Regions from separate parts of the Homo sapiens genome. Here regions 2 and 3 are each reported to be linked to region 1. The links are microRNA targets in miRTarBase. Many come from high-throughput screens and were not tested one by one. Region 1 holds a microRNA gene; each other region holds the end of a gene's coding sequence. Distances are between the middles of the regions.
Evidence for each region. Region 1 holds the annotated microRNA hsa-miR-6771-5p (CUCGGGAGGGCAUGGGCCAGGC, at 2,786-2,807, opposite strand). A microRNA usually pairs through its seed, bases 2 to 8, with sites in the 3' UTR of a target mRNA and lowers its output. Matches are read on the target gene's strand: a 7mer-m8 pairs with bases 2 to 8, a 7mer-A1 pairs with bases 2 to 7 and ends in A, and an 8mer does both.

Region 2: miRTarBase lists PDP2 as a target of hsa-miR-6771-5p. Seed matches in the 3' UTR shown: 7mer-m8 at 4,525-4,531.
Region 3: the mRNA of POLR1E is a reported target of hsa-miR-6771-5p. The part of its 3' UTR that is shown has no 7-base or 8-base seed match.

Annotation. Positions count from the first base shown.
Region 1 is chr16:50,287,476-50,295,427 of GRCh38, reverse strand. MIR6771 (microRNA 6771) reads right to left here and starts at 2,812; the gene lies at 2,753-2,812. It overlaps ADCY7 (adenylate cyclase 7), which reads right to left. Exons shown (of 26, transcript NM_001114.5): 2 at 7,078-7,516; 3 at 4,768-4,971; 4 at 3,531-3,692; 5 at 2,603-2,752; 6 at 1,926-2,074; 7 at 677-788. The coding sequence starts at 7,248.
Region 2 is chr16:66,884,767-66,892,718 of GRCh38, reverse strand. It overlaps PDP2 (pyruvate dehydrogenase phosphatase catalytic subunit 2), which reads right to left. Exons shown (of 2, transcript NM_020786.4): 2 at 1,618-7,952. The coding sequence ends at 6,845. It overlaps LOC124903700 (a long non-coding RNA gene), which reads right to left and starts at 361. Exons shown (of 2, transcript XR_007065089.1): 1 at 68-361.
Region 3 is chr9:37,502,013-37,509,964 of GRCh38, reverse strand. It overlaps POLR1E (RNA polymerase I subunit E), which reads right to left. Exons shown (of 12, transcript NM_022490.4): 12 at 6,268-6,922. The coding sequence ends at 6,763. Among named protein-coding and RNA genes, the nearest start is that of POLR1E, 20 kb to the right of the region's middle.

The sequences.
Region 1 (7,952 bases):
AGGTCAGGAGTTCGAGACCAGCCTGGCCTACATGGCGAAACCCCATTGCTACAAAAAAAAAAAAAAAAAAAAAAAAAAAAAATTAGCCAGGCGTGGTGGTGCATGCCTGTAGTCCCAGCTACTCAGGAGGCTGAGGCATGAGAATCACTTGAGCCTGGCAGGTCGAGGCTGCAGTGAGCAGTGATGGCACCACTGCACTCCAGCCTTCATGACAGAATGAGACTCCATCTCACAAAAACAAACAAACAAAACGTAAAAGTTTAATGTGCACATGATTCACCTCAGATCCTGTGAAAAGCAGCTTCTGGGTGAGGCTGGGCATTCCACAGTCCTCCTGAGCTACCAGGTGAGTGGAGGCTGCTAGCCTTGCCAGTGAGGATGGAGCCATCTCCTCCTCCTGAGCCCCCATCTGAGCTCCAGAGCCCCAGTATATCGCCCAGTGTGCACTGTCAGTCTCCCCACTGGCCTGTCACTCTGGGGGCACAGGATCCTGGCTGCCGTGGCCACCACTCACCCCCACCTTTACCATGGGGCGCTTGTGTTTGCTGGCTGGATGCTAAAATTCAGCCACGCCTCCCCATCCCAATTCCAGCAGGGCACTGAACACAGGACACCCCTGGGGTGTAATAGGCAGGGGAGGGGCCTGGCTTTGCCCATTGTAGGCCAGCGGGCTCACCTTGGCGATCTGGTCGAACTTGCCAAAGAGCTCATTCAGCACCACCACCAGCTCCTTGGGAGAACAGTCGCTGGCCAGCTGCGTGAAGCCCACGATGTCCGCATAGAGGATGCTGGGGATGGGGCAGGGTGGGAGGGAGTGTCAGAGCCAGGCTCCTAGACAGCAGCAGCAGGAGCACGCAGGACTGTCTGGAGCCCCAGGAGCCTGCCAGGCCTGAGCCCATTCACCCCCGTCCTTCCTCAGCCTCCATAGGGATGGGAGAGTCGCGCCCAGCCATAGAGACAGATTAAAGTTCCAGGGGCTTCACGTTAAAGCAGAAGGGAGCAAAATTCAGAGCCTACAGGAGCCCTCGGCCCCACCCCAGGCCCTATCACTGCAGACAGCCGAAGGGCACTCCTGCAGGCAGCCCGGAGCCTTCCCCTTTCCCATCCAATGTTCACCACAGCACAGACTTCAGAACTCCCTGGTGAGAGGCAGCTCCATGCTCCCTCAAGCCAACCTCCACACCCAGCACTTTACAGGCATCGAGTCCTCACACAGCCCTTGCCGAACTCCCGTTCTACAGATGCACAAACTGAGGCTCCAGGACATTGAGACTTGCTGGGAAGCCAAGAGCTGGCATCTGCACCAGTTCTCCCTGCTCCAAAGTCCTTAAGCTCATGGACCATCCACAGCCCAGAGAAAAGGCAGCGGGCCAGCCTTGGATGTAATGCTGGCGCTGCAGGCAGAGGACCCAGGGGGTCTCCTGGGACCCACATCTACACTCAACGGCACCCAGCACCCACATCGACACTTGACAAACTCAGGTCAGTGCATTCAAGTAAAATTTTGTGGTTCCCTGCAAATCAGCCAAAGACAGGTGTCAGAACCGGGGCACTCTTGGGCACCAAGGCCGGGGGGCTTTACCTCATTCTGGGGGTCCTGTGCTCCCTTGAGAACCATCTGAAAGGACCCCTTCCTTCACAAAAGCTATGTTTGCTCACACAGTTTTACAGTTTTGGGGGTGTGCTAGATCTTTCAATACCAATCTAAATTCTCTAATTTAAGAGCCCTGATCTGATCCTGCCCACAAGTGGGGGTTCTGAGACCCAGGGAGGGCCCCAGATTGACCTGGAACCATGGGGCCCTCTCCCAATCCCTATATGGGCAGGGGTCTGAGCCTCCAGATAGGGCGGGGAGGCCGCCTGGGGGCCGGTGGAACGGTGGGCCCAGTCCCCGGGATATGCTAATCACACGTCTCACCGCCCACCTGACATTCTGGTGCCTCTTGACGTAGAGGCTGTGGAAGTTGTTGTCAGGCATGCAGCGACGGTCACCATGCTCCTTGAGCCGTTCGATGATGGCCAGCTTCATGCCCATGGAGATGTGGGCCGGAAGCACTGACAGCAGCAGGTTCTCCTGGGTGTGGGTGGGCAGACCAGCAGAGGGACCAGCAAAGCGACCGGCGGAGGGACCAGCGGGGGACAGGCAGGGTAGCATCAGGTCCCAGACCTGGCCTCCTTGGCCCCCATCCTCCCTGCCTGCCTGCCCTGCCCACAATGTCCCCATCTCTGCTCTTGTCCTCCACCAACCCAACTGAGCATCTACCTCCCATGTACCCAGCAGCCCCCGGGACTCAGGGTGACTGAGAAAGGGCTCTTTCAGCTGGGGAGGCTAAGCTGATGGGTGAGCAGCCTGGAGCCACTACGGCCTTCTCTGCCGCCACCTGGGGACTGCGTGCCCAGGACTGAAACCACACAGAGGAAGGCAGAGTCAAGGGTCAGCAGGCTATGGTTACCCTGCTGGAGCCCAGGACTCACCGAGGTGAGACCTGCATGGGTGTCTGGCCATGCACCTCATGCACATGGCAGCATGAGTGTCTCATGTCCAACAGAAAGAGGAAGAGGACAGGGGTGTACAGGGTGAGGAGTGGGGGCCGGGTCCCACCTGCTGGCGCTTCTCGATGCGCAGCTTCCGGCGGATCTGGATGCACTTCACAGTGTAGGTGAAGAGGTCCCGGGATGCATCCTGCATTTGGTGCTTGTGGAAGGCGCCTGTCAGGTTCCCACACAGGAAGATGACTGCGTTGGCCAGCAGCTGCGGGTAGACAGGGGTTTGGCTCATTATGTGGCCTGGCCCATGCCCTCCCGAGGCACCAGACCCCTAGGCGGACTAGTGATGGCACCTCTTCCCATTCCCTGACCTTCAACCCACTGAGAATGGCACTCTTCCTGGGGCAGACAGGGAAACTGAGGCCCAGACAGGAGCTAGTCTCCTAGTGAGTCACTAGGACTGCAAGACCAGGACACCCAGGGAGGCAGAAGAGACCACCTCACAGAGCCCAGGGCCCGAGGGGCATGCGTGCTAAGGGCAGTCCCAGAGGGCACAGCGCCCAGCTGGCTGTGTGGAGGGCCAGCCTCTGCCTGGAGAGGACACCAGGCCTGGTCAGAGGGAAAACACTTCTCTAAACACCCAATAATTATGAACAGAAGATTCACTCATTCAACACAAAGACACAAGGCAGTGCCCTGGGGTACTCCCCCAAGCCCCGCCAGGACAGGGCCTTCGAGGGGAAACTTCGGCAATGGGACTCACCCCACGACAGTGTCCCTGAACCGGGAGGCAAGGCCTGAGGTCACGACCCTGAGGGCTGAGCCACAGGGGAGCCCTAGGCCAGCAAAGCAAAGGCCAGAGGGCAGGGCCACGCCTGGAGCCCAGCTTCCGAGCAGACGTGGAGAGGGCCCGGCCTTGGAGCGGGCTGTCTGCAAACACGGCTCCGGGGCCTTCGGGTCTGATTCACCCAGAGGGGGCCCCCCCATCTGCCCTTAGACCCAGACCACAAAACCTCCCCCAGAGGCCTTAGCCCATCCCTCACCTGCAGCCCCACCCGGACACTGGGTGTCGTGAAGCCTCCCATCAAAGAACCGAGCACCAGGAGGTGGGAGGCAGTGGAGACGGCCCCAACGGCGACAGCGCCCCGCATGCTGAAGGGCAGTAGTGTGTACACCACGAAGACAATGAACAGGAAGAAGGGCACCTGTGGATGCAGCCTGGTGAGCCCGGTGCCCCAAGATGCTGCCCCAGGCCGTACAGCCCCCGGAACCCTGCACCACAGCAGCCCACCCAGTGCGTATCCTTAGGTTGGCTCCCTCGCCACCCCCTGCGTGGGCAGACATACAAGGGAACAAGAAAAGCCATAATGTGTTTCTAGGGTGGGCCCGGCCACAAGGTTCATGGTTTCCTGTGCTGATCCACTGCCTGTGGCCACCCTAGGTGGGAGGCTCCATGCCCCGCGTGATCCAGGGAGCCCCCACCTGGTGCCCCTGCCACGTGGTTCTCGCTCAGCAGAAATGATTACCGGGAGGCTGAGGCACCCTCTCACCAGCTGCCTCCAGCAATGCGGCCCCACCCGCCCTCCCTCCACCCCCAGAGCTGCCCCACCATCCCCACCGGCTGGTCCTGCGTCCACCCCTCTGGGAGTGCTGCCCTCTCCCTCCCCTTCAGTCCACATGGTTTCCTTGGGCCTCACCCCACCCTGCCCCAGCCACAGGAGCTGTCATAGGACCCAGGCCCACTGGTCAGAGTGTGCTACCGCTTGGTGACAGCCTCTCTGGGACTGGGCCCATGACCACAGCCAGGCCAGTGTGGCTCAAGCCTGCAGGTCGAGCTGGTTGAGAAAGGGCCCTCTCTCTCAACTGGGGTGGGCAGCCTGGAGCCGCTGTGAACTTCTCTGCCCCCACCTGGGGACAGCGTGCCCGGGGCCGAAGCTGTCCAGAGGCCCCAGTTCCAGTTACCCACTGGAGCCCAGCACTGACCCCTTGGCCTTTCCTGACACAGGAACCAGTTTGTGCCTTTTTGCCTCTTTGAGCTGAAGTTCTGTCATCTCCAACCAAACTGGAGCCACCCAAAAGTGCTGCAGCCCAGCGTCCGAGTGGATGCTCTCCCCACCTCAGCCCTGTCAATGCAGAGAACTCACAGGGACAAAACCAGCCTGGGGCCATCCTAGACACACAGCCAAGCGTGGGGCACGAAGGGCCTGTGGCATGCCCACCAACCACGGGGATGGGAGCTGCTGAAGGCGCAGCTGGCAGGGAGTCCAGAGTTCCTGTTACCTGCTCCCACGCACAGGCCGCCTTTGTCCATGCGTCGAACACCAGCACATAGCCCAGCGCCACCAAGCAGGCCCAGGTGAGCAGCGCCAAGGCCCTGAGCCAGCGCCGCAGGAGACACTCGACGTACATCAGCACAGAGAGGGCCGCAAACACCGCCAGCACCAGGAACGCCATGCCCAGAATGGCCTGGTGTCTGGAGGGGTCCTGGGTGGAGCAAACAGACAGGAATGCCTCGGCTTTCCCCAGTGCAGAGCCACCTCCTCCAGAAAGCCTGCCGGGCCGGCTGCCTCACTTACAGCTTCCTCCACGTGAAGGGTGTGGATGCACCCTCCCACACCTGGTTCCCACTCACCTTCTGGCCTTTGTCACCTCTGCCAAGGCTGCCTCAACCACCCCCTTCCCATCATCTCGGGAACCAGAGCATCACCCACAGCCCCGCCCATGATGCCATCACTCTCCATCTGCCTCTGCCTCCTCTCTGGGTTCCCACGGTGCTCTGTGCACAGCCGCAGGTGATACCACAAGCACAGGGCAGGACTCATTCACAGGCAGAGCCTTGTAAAGCCGCCCAAAGAGGACACTGCGCCTGGCCCTCAGTGAGTGAGCAGAGGCTGGTGAGGGATACCAGGAAAAGTCATCCCACAGGGGAGGAGCTGAGGCAATGGCACAGAGGTGGGACAGGACGGGCACAGCATCCGGGAGGTCCGTGGGGGCAGAGGCCTGATCTGGGGGCTGGCACACAGTAGCAAGCATCCTGTGGTTGGTAGCCACATGGATCCAGGCTGCACTGGCAGCTGCTAGGTCCTGGCCACTTCACTCACATAAACACCCTGGAGTTTCTGAGTGTTCTTCTAGAACTCAGCTAATCAAATTTACATTCACTAAAAAGAAAATGGGCTGGGCATGGTGGCTCACGCCTATAATCCCAGCACTTTGGGAGGCCGAGGCAGGTGGATCAGCTGAGGTCAGGAATTTGAGACCAGCCTGGCCAACATGGTGAAACCCTGTCTTTACTAAAAATACAAAAATTAGCCAGGCGTGGTGGCATGGGCCTGTAATCCCAGCTACTCGGGAGGCTGAGGCAGGAGAATCACTTGAACCTAGGAGGTGGAGGCTGCAGCGAGCCAAGTTGGTGCCATTGCACTCCAGCCTGGGCAATAAGAGCAAAACTCTTTTTTTTGAAAAATGCAGTTCCTCAGTCACATTACCCACTTTTTAAATGCTCAATAGCTAAACACAGCTAGTGGCTGTACCAAGGCAAGTGCCTGGGCCGGAAATGACATAGGTGGTGCCAGCCTGGAGAGCTGTGTTAAAAAGGATTCTGAGGCCGGGCACAGTGGTTCACACCTGTAATCCCAACACTTTGGGAGGCCAAGGCAGGAGGATTACTTGAGGCCAGGAGTTCAAGACCAGCCTGGGCAACATAGCGAGGCCATGTCTCTACAAAAACAAACAAACAAAAAAAAAACAAAAGGAGGATTCTGAGAATGTAGACAGGCTCAGTGTGGAATGTAGGGATTGATTAATGATGTCTGCATGGGTACAGGAAGTGAGGGCAGTGATACACAGGCCATCCCTGACCCAGGTCTTCAGTAGAATCGAATTTCATCATGGAGAAAAATGAGAGTAGTTTATCTGGACAAGTTAATGTAATGTCTGAAACCACTCCAGACTTCAAAACTGAATTAAAGTTAGAGAGGCTGGGCATGGTCGTGCATGCTTGTACTCCCAGCTACTCAGGAGGATAAGCCAGGATGATTACTTGAACCCAGGAGTTCAAGGCCAACCTGGGCAACAAAACAAGGCCCAGTCTCAAAAAAAATTTTTTTAAATTAGAAACTTGTCTTCTACCAGTCTAAATGTGCTGTAAAAGACAGAGCATTGGCCGGGCATGGTGGCTCACGTCTATAATCCCAGCACTTTGGGGGGCCGAAGCAGGTGGATCACCTGAGGTTGGGAGTTCGAGACCAGCCTGGCCAACATGGTGAAAGCCCATCTCTACTAAAAATACAAAAATTAGCTGGGCATGGTGGCATGCACCTGTCATCCTAGCTACTCGGAAGGCTGAGGCAGGAGAATTGCTTGAGCCCAGGAGATGGAGGTTGCAGTGAGCCGAGATCATGCCACTGTACTCCAGCCTGGGTGACAGAGTGAGACTCTGTCTCAAAAAAACCCAAAAACAAAACAAAACAAACAAAAAAGCATAGCATTTTACAGAAGATAAGCATTTTACAGAAGAGGCTAAGAGAAGATAGCAGCTTGGCCAAGGTTGGGGCCGAGACGTGAAGCCCAGGGGCTGCCCTCACTCACCCCCTGGCTGAAGGCAATGATGATGAGGGCCACGCAGGCAGTGGCGGCCACCAGCAGGAGCGTGAGCAGCAGCGGCCCATGCTGGCTGGTGAGCTGGTACTTCTCGTAGAGCGCATCTTGGTCAGGGCCCTCCTCGCCCTCGTTGAGGAAGTAGCGCCCCTTGGCTGGCATCCTCCACCCTTGGCACGCGTGTCGTTAAGGGGCCGTTAAGGAGGCCCCAGGGCCTGGAGGGCATCTGTCTGCCAACACCCTCCCCCGTGGGCCTAGGCCTCTGTCCTCTCCGAGGCAGGCAAGCAGGGCTGGGGAGAGGGCCTCTGGGCCTGCTGCTCCATGGCCAACAAGGGGTCCGCACAGCTCTGGCACCAGGCCTCACTCACTGTGCCGCCAGCATCCTCCTGTGCATCCAGACTGGGCTGACTCCACACGCAGTTCCTCAGCTCTGCGGAGACGAAGCAGACAGGAACTTGACCTAATGGTCCAAGTCAGGGGAGGGCTAGCATCAGGGAGAGCGGGGCCCAGGCCTCACAGCACCAAGTCTGATTTATCCATCTTAACCCTAACCTAACTTTTATGTCCTGTTGTCGTAAAGCTAGTCCCCTGTGTCTTCTAGGACTGCACTGTCCAAGATAGTAGCCACTAGCCACATGTGGCTGCTTTTTTTTTTTTTTTTCAAGACAGGGCCTCACTCTGTTGCCCAGGCTGGAGTGCAGTGGCACGATCATAGCTCACTGCAGCCTCAAACTCCCGGGCTCAAGTGATTCTCCCACCTCAGCCTCCTACGTAGCTGGGACTACAGGTGTGCAGCTAATTTTTAAATTCTCTTTTGTAGAGATGGGCGTCTCCCCCTGCTGCCCAGGGTGGTTTTGAACTCGTGG
Region 2 (7,952 bases), 17 Mb from region 1:
GACCAGCCTGACCAACATGGAGAAACCCCATCTCTACTAAAAATTAGCCAGGCATGGTGGCGCATACCTGTAATCCGAGCTACTCAGGAGGCTGAGGCAGGAGAATCGCTTGAACCCGGGAGACGGAGGTTGTGGTGAGCTGAGATCGTGCCATTGCACTCCACCCTGAGCAAGAAGAGCAAAATTCCATCTCAAAAAAAAAAAAAAAATTTAATTCTCCCTGTGTTCCCTTTATCATGTTCTAAAATGATGGGACATTGGCATGTGTATAAGTTAAATATATGTAGCTTTACTCATAAGAGCGAAAGCATTATCAGAGTCCACAGAGCTATTTTATTATTACTACTATTATTATTATTATTATTATTTATTATTTTTGAGACTGAGTCTCGCTCTGTCGCCCAGGCTGGAGTGCAGTGGCATCATCTCAGCTCACTACAACCTCTGCCTCGTGGGTTCAAGCAATTCTTCTGCCTTAGCCTCCCAAGTAGCTGGAATTACAGTTGTGTGCCACCACACCCATTTAATTTTTGTATTTTTAGCAGAGACAGGGTTTCACCATGTTATCCTGGCTGCTCTCGAACTTCTGACCTCAGGTGATCTGCTCACCTTGGCCTCTCAAAGTGCTGGGATTACAGGCATGAGCCACAGCACCCAGTCTTATTTTATTATTATTATTTTTGAGACAAGGTCTCGCTTGGCCGCACAGGCTGAAGTGGAGTGGTACAATCATGGCTCACTGAAGACTCCACCTCCTGGGCTCAAGCAACCTTCCCATCTCAGTCCCCCAAGTAGCTGGGACTACAGGAACACACCACCTTGCCTGGCTAATTTTTATTTTTATTTTTGTAGAGATGGGGGGGGCGGTTCTCACTATGTTGCCCGGGCTGGTCTCGAACTCCTGGGCTTAGGCAATCCTCCCACCTTGGCCCCCCAAAGTGCTGGGATTACAGGTGTGAGCCACCACACTCTGCCCATAAAACTATGCTATTATCAGCAATAACCCCCCAAAAGCCTTCTAGCTTCCTTTCAGTACCACCAACCTCTCCTCCCAGCCCCACTCATTCCAGGCCAAAATTGTGCAAAAAACTGTACATAATTCTCCCTTCCTGAAAGCCCAGTATTGGGACTTTGGACTTGGTTCAAATCCTGGCCCTACCGCTGTGTCGTGGGTGTTTTTCAACCTCTGGGCATCAATTTGATCTTGCTGAAAAGGAGGGTTGGCTGGGCATGATGGCATGAGCCACTGCACCCTTCCACTTCTGCCCACTTCTCTCTTCCGGGGCGAGGGGGTAATGTGCCAAGTTGGTTTTAATGTCTCAAGTTAAATAGTATGAAATTCTGGCAGGCTTTGGCCCTGAGTGTGTGGAGACCCTCACAACAAAAGCCTTCACTTCTTTCAGGTCTCCACACACACGGTCAACACTAAATGAGGATTTCCTGGGCAACAGCCACCAAACCTTTGCAGAGCAGCATACTTCTCTTTTGGGTGGACTCTTGAACAGCCTAAAATCTTCCACGGTCAGATAAAGGTGGTGAAACAAAGGTTGGCCTAATCTAGTACCTTAAGGACTGAAAAAAAAAATTAGGATTCAAACCAAAAGAAACTAAATTTCATTTTGTTTCTTTCATTTCCAAGTTTTAATTAAATATCTCTAATGGTTAGAAAATCAATGTCAAATACGAACATTGGTATACAGCTTAAAATACAAATGTCAGCAATTATTAAAGAACATGATTAATCATTGTTCCAAGTAAATGCTAGATCATTATTTCCCAGGAGGCAAGTTAAGCATCAGGTGCCTGAGGGGTAAGGGACAGGGCTTCAGTCGGCTCTGATAGCTGCATGGCTGTCCCAATGAGCTTTCCACTCAGATAGTGCCAGGGGCAGCTCTCATCACAGGCTGGCTCACTGGCCTTTATCCCCAGCTCCAAGGAAACACCAGGGCTTTTTCTGCCATGAGAATCGTGTTTCAGAGTCAAATGATCCACTTTAAGATGAAATTTGGACAGCTCAGTTCCAGAATATTCTAGTTTAACCTGGGAAGTTAAGACTTCCCAAAGGCTGAAGATAGGCTACTAGGGGCTGATGGACAAGAGTCAGGCCAGAGTCACTCTAAACACATCTTTGTTTTGTTCTGTATAATTAATTATACTGTATCTTCTTTAAGTAACTCAAGTTCAAGCTCTCTATATTTCACTTATGTTTAAAAGATGCCAATTTGATTGTGTCTAAACTGAACTTTACCCAGTGTGCTGAATACTAAAGACCTTTTAGGCCAAAGGAAAAAGATGTTTATATATTAACATACCTCAAAGTTTACATTTTCATTATAATAAATTAGCCTTAATGTTAACAAATAACATCTCAGAAAGCTGAATCTAAGTAGCCTGATCTATCATGCTAATTTGAGTTTGTTTTTTGTTTTTGTTTTTTTGAGATGGAGTTTCGCTCATGTTGCCCAGGCTGGAGTGCAATGGCACAATCTCAGCTCACTGCAACCTCTGCCTTCTGGGTTCAAGGGATTCTCCTGCCTCAGCCTCACAAGTAGCTGGGATTACAGGCATGCGCCACTATTCCAGGCTAATTTTTGTATTTTTAGTAGAGATGGAGTTTTACCATGTTGGTCAGGCTGGTCTCAAACTCCTGACCTCAGGTAATCCACCCACTTTGGCCTCCGAAAGTGCTGGGATCACAGGCATGAGCCACCGTGCACAGCCGACTTTTTTTTTTTTTTTTTTAATTCAAACTTTTTTTTTAGACACAGTCTCACTCTGTCACTCAGTCTGGAGTGCAATGGCACGATCACAGCTCACTCTGGCCTAGACCTCCTGGGCTCAAGAGATCCTCTCATTTCAGCCTTCCAAGCAGCTGAGACTACAGGCATGTGCCACACCTGGCTATTTTTTTTTTTTTTTGTAGAGGCAAGATCTATGTTGCCCAGGCTGGTCTCATACTGTACTCAAGTGAGTCTTCTGTCTTGGAATCCCAAAGTGCTGGGATTACAGGTGTGGGCCACTGTGCCTAGCCACGAATTTGAATTTAGAATACTATCTTATCTATCCATTTTTACCAAGCCCCAGAATCAAGAGAGATGCAGTTATATATTTTTTAAAAATCTGGTGAGGTGTGGTGGCTCATGCCTGTAATGCTAGCACTTTGGGAAGCTGAGGTGGGAGGATCACTTGAGCTCAGGAGTTCGCAGCCTGGCCAACATGGTGAAACTCTGTCTCTACTAAAAATACAAAAAATTAGCGGTGTGTGGTGGTGCATGCCTGTAATCCCAGCTACTCTGTGGCAGAGGCACGAGAGTCACTTCAATCTGGGAGGCAGACGTTGCAGTGAGCTGAGACTGTGTCACTGCACTTCAGCCTGGGCGACTGAGTGAGACTGTCTCAAAAAAAAGAAAGAAAATAAATCTAAATTATGCCAATATTATCAAAGTTTCTTACCTAAAATCATATACAATTTTAAGCACCAAAGCATACTTTCTTCAAAAGTTACATCCAAAATATTAAATGTTCAATCTCATTTTTCAGTTCATTTTAAGTCTCAATACTGAAATCTCCGTATAAAAGGAATAATAAATGCTTTGAAAGACCTGACAATTACCACTAAACTCCTCTCAAATCCCAGTGTCCTGGGGCAGTAGCCCATGTGCTTCAAGAAGTCCAATGACAGCAGGATAGTGGTCAGGGAGACAGGAGTTTAATCAGGAGGTGCTCCCCAGAATGTTCATGGAAAGAACAGATGATTCACAGTGGAAAAAAAGCAAATGATAAATAAGCCTTTCTTCTTTCTCAATATTACTAACTAGAAAGCAGGAAAATCTATTAGGCAGAGAAAAACCAGATATGCCTGGAGATACAGGTAAGGAGTCTGTGTTCTCTCAGCTGTCTCACAGGTTAATGAATCAGATATATTTATGACCCATGCTAGGCTCCAAAGTAAGATTCAGGTACTCTGTATGCCAGTAAAGGCTTCAAGGATACTCCAGGGTTTAGCTAGTATAAAGAATAAAGGACAAAGAAAATGCCAGACAACCAGCCTGAGCAACATAGCAAGATCATGTTTTCACCAAAAAAAGTTTTTTTAATTATCTGGGCCTGATGGTTCATGCCTGTAGACCCAGCTACTTGGGAGGCTAAAAGGGGAGGGAACATTGGAGTCCAGGAGTTTGACAGTGAGTTATAATGATGCCACTGCACTCCAGCATGGGCGACAAAGCAAGACCTTGTCTCAAAAAACAACAAAAAGTAAACGTCAGATAGAATCCTCAATTTTAGCAACAAACCCTCATGCTAGCAGAATGGAAGTGATTTACATTTTATTTTTGATTCAAGATCTAGGAGATAGGCTGGGTGCGGTGGCTCATGCCTATCATCCCAGCACCTTGGGAGGCCGAGGTGGGCAGATTGCTTGAGTCTAGGAGTTTGAGACCAGCCTGGGCAACATGGCAAAACCCTGTCTCTACAAAAAATTAAAAAAATTAGCCAGGCATGGTGGTGCATAGTCCCAGCTACTCGGGAGGCTGAGGCAGGAGGATCGTTTGAGCCTGGGCTGCAGAGGTTGCAGTGAGCCAAGATCATGCCATTGCACTCCAGCCTGGCTACAGGGAGACCCTGTCAAGAAGGAAAGAAAGAAAGAAAGAGAGAGAGAGGAAGGAAGGAAGGAAGGAAGGAAGGAAGGAAGGAAGGAAGGAAGGAAGGAAGGAAGGAAGGAAGGACGGACTAAGAGATAAGATGGATTTTTTTTTTTTTTTTTTGAGACAGAGTTTCACTCTTGTTGCCCAGGCTGGAGTGCAATGGTGCGATCTTGGCTCACCGCAACCTCCGCCTCCCGGGTTCAAGTGATTTTCCTGCCTCAGCCTCCCGAGTAGCTGGGATTACAGGCATGCACCACCACACCTGGCTAATTTTGTATTTTTAGTAGAGATGGAGTTTCTCCATGTTGGTCAGGCTGGTCTCGAATTCCCGACCTCAGGTGATCCATCCGCCTCGGCCTCCCACAGTGCTGGGATTACAGGCGTAAACTACTGCACCCAGCCAAGAAGGAATATTAATGGTTTCAGAATAAAAGGATCAAGGCTTAAATATTCAAAAGATAATTTCTTAGATGAAAACACATGACTAAACAGTTGCACTGAAAAATGTACAAAGAAACACCACCAAATTAGAAGTATCCCAACATTTGACTGAATGTCAGCTGGGACATAGACAAAAAACAGGAAACCAAACCTAGCTATTTGTTTTTCTTTTCAGTAGGTGGCATAAAGGGGTAAGATGAGAAAAGGGATCAACAAATGTAGTTCAACTTAATTGAAGAATTCTGCCTGACGTAGTAGAGGCAAATAAAATTGTTGGTTTTGTGGGATTATATTTGTTTCCATTTAGGGACACATTTCCTGTTGTTTAAATGCCACAGCAACTCATGAGATGAAATTCATCTCCAAAATGGATCCACATAACTGAATTTCCAAGTAAATACAAAGAGTCTACAGCCCACAGAAACCATTACAAATTACACTTTTATTTTTGCCCCAACTCCTATACTAAATATGGTCTAATTCCTGAGGACTAGCAATGGTGGTTTATCCCACAGTCTTGGGGCAAGCGTCCCATCTGATAAGTCTCACTCCTCCCTCCTGCCCACCACCTCTCAGGAAAGGATTCAGAGAAACTTGGTTAGAAACTGTTGTCCTTAAGCCTTTGTGTTTTCACCTCTCCAGATAGAGGTTGAATCTTAAGTCCACAATCCGCTAAATTAACCTGTCCTGTCTAAACGTCTATCACCACAACTACCACATGCAATCACATTTTCTCCTTTCCTGCAGCCATAGGAAGCAGGAACATGTGAAAGATTCTTTCAGACAATATTTTGCAGTTGGCAGGTGCAGGGTGAATGAGGGGTTCAGCATAGCAGAGGTAGAAGGATTGTGTGGAATTGACAGAAGAATGTTTGAGAGGTATAATCAGAAAGCTTAAATGCTGTGAATCAACCCCCAAAGGCTCAGCCCAGGAGGAAATTTTACTAATGCAGGAAAGGTCAGGAGTTAAGGCATAGACTAGTTACCTCCTAGCATGGCTCAAAGTTTCTGGAATGGGACTCAGTAGAGGGCACAAAAAGCTGCACCAGTAAGTTCAGCTGGTCCAGAGGCATAGATCCTATCAGCTGAAAACCAAAACAAGTCATTCCAAGCATGCTTACAGTAGGCGTGTTTGCAAGTTTAAGGATTCAGTTTTAAAATAAACGAAAACAGAACTAGAATGTAGTATTACAAAATTTCTCACAAGCATAATCACAAAAAAAAAAGTTAGGATATTGCATAGAAAAGGGTCCTGTAGTATGCTTTGTAAACCTAGACCTTAGTAATTTAAATAAAAGACAAACAAATAAAATATCTCTTCATAGTCTACAAGTCCATGATTGTGAATTCAGGAGAATTATCAAATTTGCAGATTTTTGTGGCAAGACCTAAGAAGCTCCTGAAGTTCTTTATTCTCAGAATCATGATTAAATTTACCCTTTGAAGGCTCAGGCTGACACAGTTTAACAACATCTTTATCAAATGACTGGGGCTACACAAGCCCAAGCCAATTCTATAGACTTTATGCTCTGTCCTCTCTGCATATAAGACTTAATCAGAACATACAGGGACATGAAATCACTGCTATTTCACTGTTTTTTAAAGCTAGGCTGTTTGTTTTTTTCCTCCTGTTAGTCTATTTAGCAAATTAAATCTGCCTGCGCTTTTAATAGTAAGGTTTGGATAGCTAGTTTAGGAGTAAGTGAAACATTTTAGAAGAGCATTTATGTTAACCTTGACAATAGGATGGGAGATTCTTAACCCCCCTTGTAATATGCACCGATTGATTCTGAGTTAAAATACACCACAGTGACAGTGATATCATCCCTGTACATCCTCGCCAAGTCCTCTGGCAATGTCAGCATCGCCGCCAGCCGCTCTGCCTCCATCTCCCCATACTCATTGTTCCCGATGGCATGTCTGATCAGCCGCGTGGCTGCATTTTGGTCAGCCTCGTGGAGCCCGCTGGCTTTCCTCTGCAGCAGCAGGCTCTGCATGAGCCCCAAGTTGGCGGGTCTCTGGGCCAGGTCTGTCTTGTGCCAATCTGCCTCAGCCAGGTGCCCCACCACCAGCCTTACCACGTCCTCATTGCTCAGCATGTCCCACAGGCCATCTGAGGCCAGCACAAGGAACTTATCCTGGGGCCTCAGCCTGTGGTATGTGACCTCAGGCTCAGCAGTCAGGTAGGGTGGAGTGTAGTAGTGTGGGGGTGTGAACTGGTAAATGTTGAGGGCCTCGGTATTGAAGCCCCTCTCCAGAATGCTGCGCTGCAACTCTTTACTCCACTTCAGCTGAACATCCCCAAAGGCCCTGCAGGGGATGAGGACGCCCAGTAGCCTGTCCTCCATGATGATCGTCCTGTCCTCTGACTCAGGGTGCTCCCTCTTTAGCCGGGACAGCTCGGCCTGGTTCCAGGCATTGTGGTCACGTGTAAGGGGCAGACAAGACCACATGCCATTGTCCTCTTGGACACCAAGGATGGCTCGGCAGTCACCAGCATTTGCCACGTGCAAGTGAATTCCATCAACATGGGCCATGCAAGCTGTTGCCCCAGAGAAAGCAACCTGGAGTGACAGGTTCCTTGTCACCTCATCTTCCAGGGGGGCCTGGATTTCCAGCGAGATGTCAGAATCCAGTCTCTGGAAGGAGTACATTAATGCTTCTTCAATGCTTAGTCCCATTTCCATGTGCAAATCAAGCAGTTCCTGCCAATAGACACGGAGGTGGTCAAGATGCACAGATGTGACATCCTTGTAGATACTGTCCCCTGGGTGCTTGAGCCAATGCAGGATGGGCAGCAAGGGTTTCATGCTTTCCATAGCTCCCTCCATGTGCTCCAGGGTCTGGTGGGACATCAGGGACACT
Region 3 (7,952 bases), not on the chromosome of region 1:
TTTTATATTACTATAAACATACATTAAACTATTAAAATGAAAATATTCATTGGTTTTGGTAGTTACTGTTTGCTGCCCCTCAGGGAGAGTACATGCCCTCTCACGTTGCCATGGGACCTGATTTGCCCAGTGAATGTAGGCAGAAGTGGTTAATGGTCACTTCTGGGTAGAAGCTTTAAGGGCCAGCAGAACTTGCCCCGATCGTGTGTCCCTCTGCCAGTGGACCACCACGTGTCAGACATGGCAGCCCGAGTCCCGGGGTGAAGCTAACCCGGAGCAGGGTCCCAGGTGCCTGCTGGCTGACAGACATGTGCCAGACATTCAACAAAAGCAAATGAACTTTTGTTGAAACCAGACATTTGAGGGCCATTTGTCACTTCAGCTTAGCCTAACCAGCAGAACACAAGTACTTTACTACATCCCTGAGCCACCTAAAATCATCGTAAGTTCTGTCAATAATGTATTAAACATTGACTTGGTGAGCTCATTGTCCCCATTTTGGAGGCTGGGAGTGCTGATGCTCCTGAGATCCGGCAGGGGAAAGTTCCCTATCAGATGTGGAGAGGTGTGAGGAGGGCTATTACCTGGAGCAAAGGTGGCAGGGAAGGGAACAGCTGGGACACAAATTCCCTCCAGGTCATTTGGAGGCAGAAGTGGGAGGAACAGAACACCCACCTTAGCTCTTGTGTTTGGGGAAGAGTCAGGGAGTGCGGGTGCTTTGCACAACAGGCCAGACTTGCCCAAGAAAACTGAGCCCATCTAACTTTTTACTTAATTGAGCCAAAGTCTCTCTCCCTCGCTAAATTCTACCCCTCCTTCAGAAGCTCCTTAGTCACTACTTCTATGGAACACCTTCCCCTGTCTCTACAAATAACAGTTAACTGCGCCTTCTCCATGCTCCTGTGCCCACTCAGCCACATGCCACCTGCAGATGGCACTGAATCCTCTCTTTTCAGTCTGTTGGTTGAGGGCAGGGACTTTGCCCATCTTGTTCACTGTTGATTCTCTATGCCCAGCACAGAGCAAAGCTCACTAAGTGTTGGATGGATGGCGGACAGACAGGCAGACAAATGAGGAAACAAACCCAACCTCATTCCCAGAATCTCTACCTCCTGGGGCCCCCAAAGGACATCTCTTCACTCTGTTCTGTGACAACTCTTCAGAGATTTGCAGGCAGCACCCTCATCCCCCTGGGGTCTGCTGCCCTCCTGGGTTCCTCTCGTATGTGCCAGTTTGCAGGGTGTCTCTTCACCACCCTGGTCATTTCTCTAGACTCACTCCAGTGGCCTGGGTAGGTCTGGGAGAGCCCAAAGAAGCAGAGTTGAGGCGTCCTGTCCTGTATCTCAGGAGGAATGGCCCAGCTCCATGGGCAGCACTCACGGATCTAAAGAGAATTCTCTAAAGTACTGTGTTTCCTTGGAATCATTTGCTTTCAGTCTGCAGTAGCTTCCCTCCCACCCACAGGAATACTGCCATGGGTGAAGGCTTCACTCTGGTGCAGAGTTCACAAGAGGTTCCAGCTGACCTCTACCCAAGCAGCTTATACTGTGTCCTCCCTGGACTTCCCTGTTGGCCAGTCAGGCCCAAACACGGATGTCTGCTGATGGGAATGTACAAGCACAGCAAACACCAGTATGATTTCATCATCTAGGCCTCCAGGTCTTGGTGAGGCCACTGCCCTGGTGCCCAGAGGAAGTCCTAAGTACAGCGGATGTGGACATGGTATGGCCAGACCAGGCAAGAGCCAGAGATGAGCCTTGGAACAGCACATGAGCCTATACTGTCAACAGCACCCCTGGGCCCACCTTCTTCAATCTCCCTTCTGACAACACAGAGCAAGCTTTCTCTCCAAATGCTTCCTCATGGTGGGCTCATGTGGGGCATGCTGGGCTTATTCCTACCCGGATCAGCCTCCCGACACAGGCATGCTCGCCCCATTGGTACCTTCTCACTACCCTCCAGACCTCTGCAGGGTGCCCTTCATGGAGCTCCTGAGCCCGTCAGCTGTGTAGTGTGCTTTTTAAATGAAGTCAAACCTAGCATGGCCTCCTGGTGCAGCCTGAGCTCCCCATCACAGAGCTGTCACCTCTACCCCGAGCCTAGTTCTTGCCTGAGTGCAGCTGAAGATCCCATCTGTCTGGTGGTCAGGATTGCATTTCACTTCCTGCTTCAGGCCCATCATTCATGTCATCCGCTATTCTCCGCTAAAAGGCCAGAGCTCCTTGGATAAAAGACGGATTCAAAGCTGGGCGTGGTGGTGCATGCCTATAGTCCTAGCTACTCAGGAGGCTGAGGCAGGAGGATGGCTTGAGCCCAGGAGTGGAGTGAGCTGACTGCACCACCGCTCTCCAGCCTGAGCGACAGAGCAAGACCCTGTCTCTAAAAAGCAAAACCACAACAAAAGACTGACTCCAGGGCTGCAGCAGGGAAAGTACAAGGTAGGCCTGGAATATCTCATGCTAGAAAGTAAGGAAGCACCCTTAAAATGATGGGATCCAGGAGGTTTCCTGAAGGAACTCAAGATTGGCCAAATACATACAATCTGGACATCACAAGGAATCACAGTAACAGACTCCACATAGAACACAAGACTCTTGAGTCTATGCCAATAACTAAATGAACACAAAACTTCTAAGGTCGAGAAAACAAACTGCCTTATAAGAGCATGCCAATAATTAGAAGAAACGATAATGTTGCAAAATCACCATTTTGCAACCATCTTGGTAATTGATTCAGCAAGAATCATCAATTGAGGCTGAAACTAGTAGGTGAAAGTTTGATGAGGAACAGGATACTTAGTTTCAAAGTATCCCTCCAGAAATTACTTATTAAAAGGAAAAACAGTATCTTCACAATGCGGAAAACACAACCTTAACTGATAAAAGTTAACAGCAGCAAGGAAAGCGCAGTCCCACATCATGGGCCCCTAATGTGATGCATGTGGGTCACAGCATCATTTCTGTGCTGTTCCTGCCAAAAATGTAAATCCTGAATCCGATCACGGGAAAGCCCCAAATGTAAACTGACAGACACCCTAAAGAATAACACCTCACTCTCCAAAATGTCAAAGCCGAGAAAGTCCAATAAAAATCTGAACTGTTTCAGATTAAGCAAGACCAAAGAGGCATGGTGATCGGTAAGATTTGAACATGAACTGTGGGCTAAGTCATAGTATTGCATTATTGTCTTATTTCCTGCATCTGATGGACTGTGGTTATGGAAGAGAAAGTCCTGATTCTTAAGATGTACACACTGAAAAAGTACTTATGGGTAGAAGGGTAGGATGTTTTCCTCAAATGGTTCAAAAACAAATCTCAAAATGTCTAAAGCAAATAGTAAATGGGACAAAGTATTGACAGTTGGAGAATCTGGGTAAAGGATATACAAGAGTTCTTGCAAGTTTTCTCTGTGTGAAACTATATCAAAATACTTTTTTAAAAGAGGAGACACTTGAAAGAATGTTATGTAATTTACTATTTCCAGGTTAGGGTCTCCTGCAAATGTGGTAACTATGCCTTCTTTGACCTCATCCCAATTAACAGTGTCCAGCAGGTCAGGGCAGCAAGCAAAGACTTCCCTCTAAGGAACAGACTTCATTCTGTTAATCAAACCCTGCCAAGTTAAGACTATCCCACAAACTACAAATCTTCAGGGCACCAGCATCTGGCTCATAGTCCCCCTTTCTTCAATGAGGCCATCAGGAGACATTCTGGCAAATAGCTTGGTGAGATCAAGGTATCCTCTGGGAATCTATTAGTAAACAAATGGGTTTCTAAAGCCAGAAGAAACCCTAGTACAATCCCATTATTCTGCAGGTATTTACCACCTAATAACCCTGCCAAGGAAAGTACGGTTCATGCCGACTCATTCTGCAGACACTGACCACTTTCTATGTCAGGTATTGTGCTAGGTGGAGCCCTCTTCTGAGCCTTTCCTAAGGACTCACAAATCTCCTAATGTACAGAAATTTGCTTTTTAGCCTCTTGGAATGTGTCCCCGACATTTAGCAAAATACACCTGTTGACACACGACAAGTATTTGCCCGCCTAGTCTTTCCCTATCCATACCTACAGTCATTACCACCTGCTTCTCCACTAGGTCAGAGGTTGTTCAGAGGGTCCCAGCCACATGCTGTGTCCAGTCATTCCCAGAAATTAAGCCTCCAAGTGTCAAACCCAGCTGAATTTTAAAAGTAATCACAAAAGGCTGGGCGTGGTGGCTCACGCCTATAATTCCAGCACTTTGGGAGACCGAGGCGGGCAGATCACCTGAGGTCAGGAGATTGAGACCAGCCTAACATGGAGAAACGCTGTCTCTACTAAAAATACAAAATTAGCCGGGCATGGTGGTGCATGCCTGTAATCGGGAGGCTGAGGCAGGAGAAGCACTTGAACCCGGGAGGCAGAGGTTGCAGTGAGCTAAGATCACGCCATTGCACTCCAGCCTGGGCAACAAGAGCGAAACTCCATCTCAAAAAAAAAAAGTAATCACGGAAACACATTCTACCCTGAGGATGTATTAGAAGTCCTTTTCTGAGAGATTATTTTTTCCAAGGAAGAGTCACATACTTGATTTTCACAACGGCTTAAAGGAAAACAAGAGACAAGTAGATTCCCTGCCCACACCTCTGCTGAAGGAAGACAAAGTATGCTCCAAGTGCCTCCTACCCAGGGCCAGAGGCAGATGGGGACAAAGCAGAGGAGCACAGCTCTGAGGGCATCCCAGACCGCAAAGAAAATAAGGTGCACCTGCCCCAAAGCTCAGCCAAGACTCCTTTCCACTGTGACTCCCAAATGGAGGGCCCCAGGTGCTGTGTAAACTTCTCCTCTCAGAGGAGCTGAGTTCTGTCTCCCTCCCTTCACTGACCCGGCCTCCCAGGTGCTGAGTGTCACAGATCTCAACTGCTCCCACTTGAAGCAGGACCCTGAGATGTGAGACTGGGCCCAGGCCACGTACCTAAGCCTTCCTGTGTCACACTCCTGTCCTTATAGCACCGCTCTGGACACAGCTTCTCCATCTCCTCAGTGGCACATACAATTGGTTGGCAGTTATAATCCACTCATGTCCTTCTAGAATGCCTCCTGTAACTAGAGGCTGGTGAGCTGAAACCTATTTCAAAGACTCCCATTCTGCTAGGATTCTACATGCTAATCAGGCTCCTATATATGCGCACCAGAAGGAAGCAAGGTGGAGGCCAGCTGCTTGACCTTCTGGCTGTCTGTGGTGACAAAGTGGTGGAAATACAGGACCTTTGAAAGCACGGGTAGGCTGGGCACGGTGGCTCACACCTGTAATCCCAGCACCTTGGGAGGCCAAGGCGGGTGGATCATGAGGTCAGGAGTCCAAGACCAGCCTGGCCAACACAGTGAAACCCTGTCTCTACTAAAAATGCAAAAAAATTAGCTGGGCATGGTGGCGCATGCCTGTAATCCCAGCTACTCGGGAGGCTGAGGCAGGAGAATTGCTTGAACCAGGCCATGGGAGGCGGAGGTAGCAGTGAGCGAGATCGTGCCACTGCACTCCAGCCTGGGCTACAGAGCAAGACTCTGTCTCAAAAAAATAAAAAGAAAAAGAAGAAAGCATGGGTAGCTGAAATCAGCAGCCCAGTGTTGAATCTTCAGCTGCATGAATTCCAGGAGCAGTTATGGAGCAGAAGTGGCTTCTGAGTCCCCGATGGCAACCCCGGCAGTGTGTTCTTGAATTCAGCAGTCCTGACGGCAACCTTCCGATTCCCAGTCCTCTGGCCCTTGTCACAATTCTACAGCACCTTATCCATACATTAAAATCCATTCTTCTTAAGATACCTAGAGCAATTGATTTTCTGAACTGAACACTGACTGATTCATCCTCTTCAAAGTGTGGCTTTCATAGCTGACCCCTGCCTTCTATGTGGCCTCCACCAGACAGAGAAATTGGGTCACCACTTCCTCTGACTTGGCTCCACCCCATTACAACAGGCTGTATCCTACTGGCCTGTGGCAGCCCCCATCACACTGGTGACCCAGTTAGCTTCTGATAAAGCCTGAAGTGTCATTTCCCAGGCGTGCTGGGCCAGATCCTCCTTCCTCACTGCGTACTCCACTGGCCCTTCCAGACCTAAGCACGCCACTTCACATTTCTCTTTGGAAACCTTCATCCATTAGATTTGACTCAGCCTGGTGAGTCAACTTTGGGAGGGAGGACCCACCCTCCCAAATCCCCACAGGTGAACCAACATGAGAAACATCTGCCATTTATAATCACAGCAATAATACCAAAGGAGAGAGATGAAGTCCAACCTGGCCATCGCTTTATATTTCTGCATAAGACAAGCACAGTTGAGATGCTGGCTTCTGGCTTCATACCTGTGCTAAAGCAAGGCTTCTTTTTTCCTTATGTTACTTTTTTGAGACAAGGTCTCACTCTGTGACCCAGGATGGAGTGTGGCCACACAATCATAGCTCACTGCAACCTTGATTTCCCAAGCTCAAGTAATCGTCCTGCCTCAGCCTCCCGAGTAGCTGGGATTACAGGCGCACACCACCAGGCCTGACTCTTTTTTTTTTCCTCCGGTAGAGATGGGGTCTCCCTATGTTGTCCAGACTGGTTTCAAACTCCTGAGCTCAATGATCTTCCTGCCTCGGCCTCCCAAAGTGCTGGGATTTCAGGTGTGAGCCACCATCCCCGGACCTTTTCTTTTCAAAACATACATAAAAATGGAAATGAATAGGACCAGCCAGTGGCTGTGATGCAGCCAAAACGCCCTGTCTGGAAAGCATGCGTCTAGGTAATCTTCCTCCGCTTTGCCAGGCGGTCTGAGGTCTGGGCTGGAGGCAGCGGGAGGGACAGGGTGCCCAGCTTGTGATCTTCTTCACTGCCGGCGGCCACAGACACCCTTCTTTTGGAGATCTTCAGCCTCATGGCTTTGGCTATCTCCATCATCCTAAGGAAGACATAAACAGAAGAACTGGAGAGACCCCTCAACATGACTGTTCAGGGAGGTTTGGCAAAAGGTAGCAGCACATTCATGCTCCAGGCCATAAAGACAGAATCCCAAAGGTTGCCAGCAGGCACAAAGCCCCTGGCAGAGAGGCAGGCAAGGTCCCCTCACCCGCTGGGAACCATCAGACAGCCAATTTCATTTTAATGCCCTTCAAAAGATCCATATGGGTGATGAAAAACCAGGGTATCTACAGCCCCGTGAGCAACTTTCTTTACCTCCCATAACCAAACTTTTAGCAACCAGGATTGAGCACTTGCTAGAATCTGACAGGTTCCAAGTACCTGTTCTCTTTTTTTCAGCCTCACTGCCTGTGGGAACACAGTTTGTGGACAGCCCTCAGAACAGTCCCTCCACGGACTGCTAGAGAGTCCAGACAGAGGTGTGTTCACAGGCTCTCCTAGACACCCTCTGGGCCACTGGATGTCAGATGCCCCTAAATCACTGACAAAGATCAGCTGACCTCACAGTTCAGGTTCCTGGGCAGCTCTGCCCCTACTGTCTGAATCTCCTCTACAAGGCTAGATGGAGCCTAAAAGGTCACCTCCACCACCAGCTCTCCCAGTTGGGTCAGAGAAGTGCAAACATAAAATCCCTGCCAAACAGCAGTTCCACCTGGCCTTGGAACCAGCGGTTCCCCTGGCAAACCCTTCCATCTGATTGTGAGGAAGCTCTTCTTACTAAGCTCAAATTGGGTTGTCCTACAACTTCCACCCTGAGCTGCACTCCTCAGAACCATACAGAATCCCTCTCCCCTGTGACAGCAATTCAGAGAATGGAGGCTGCCTGGTTATTCAGAACAGAATGTTATGGAAAGGCTCAGGTCTCAAGGCCAACTACTCCCCTCTTGGTTGTGTAACCTTGAGAATGTTACGTACTTTTCTGAGCCTGATTCTTCAATTGTTTTCTAGGGAAATCAGTGAGATAATGACATAATTTATCTAGCACAGAGAAGGCACTCAGTAATGTCTAG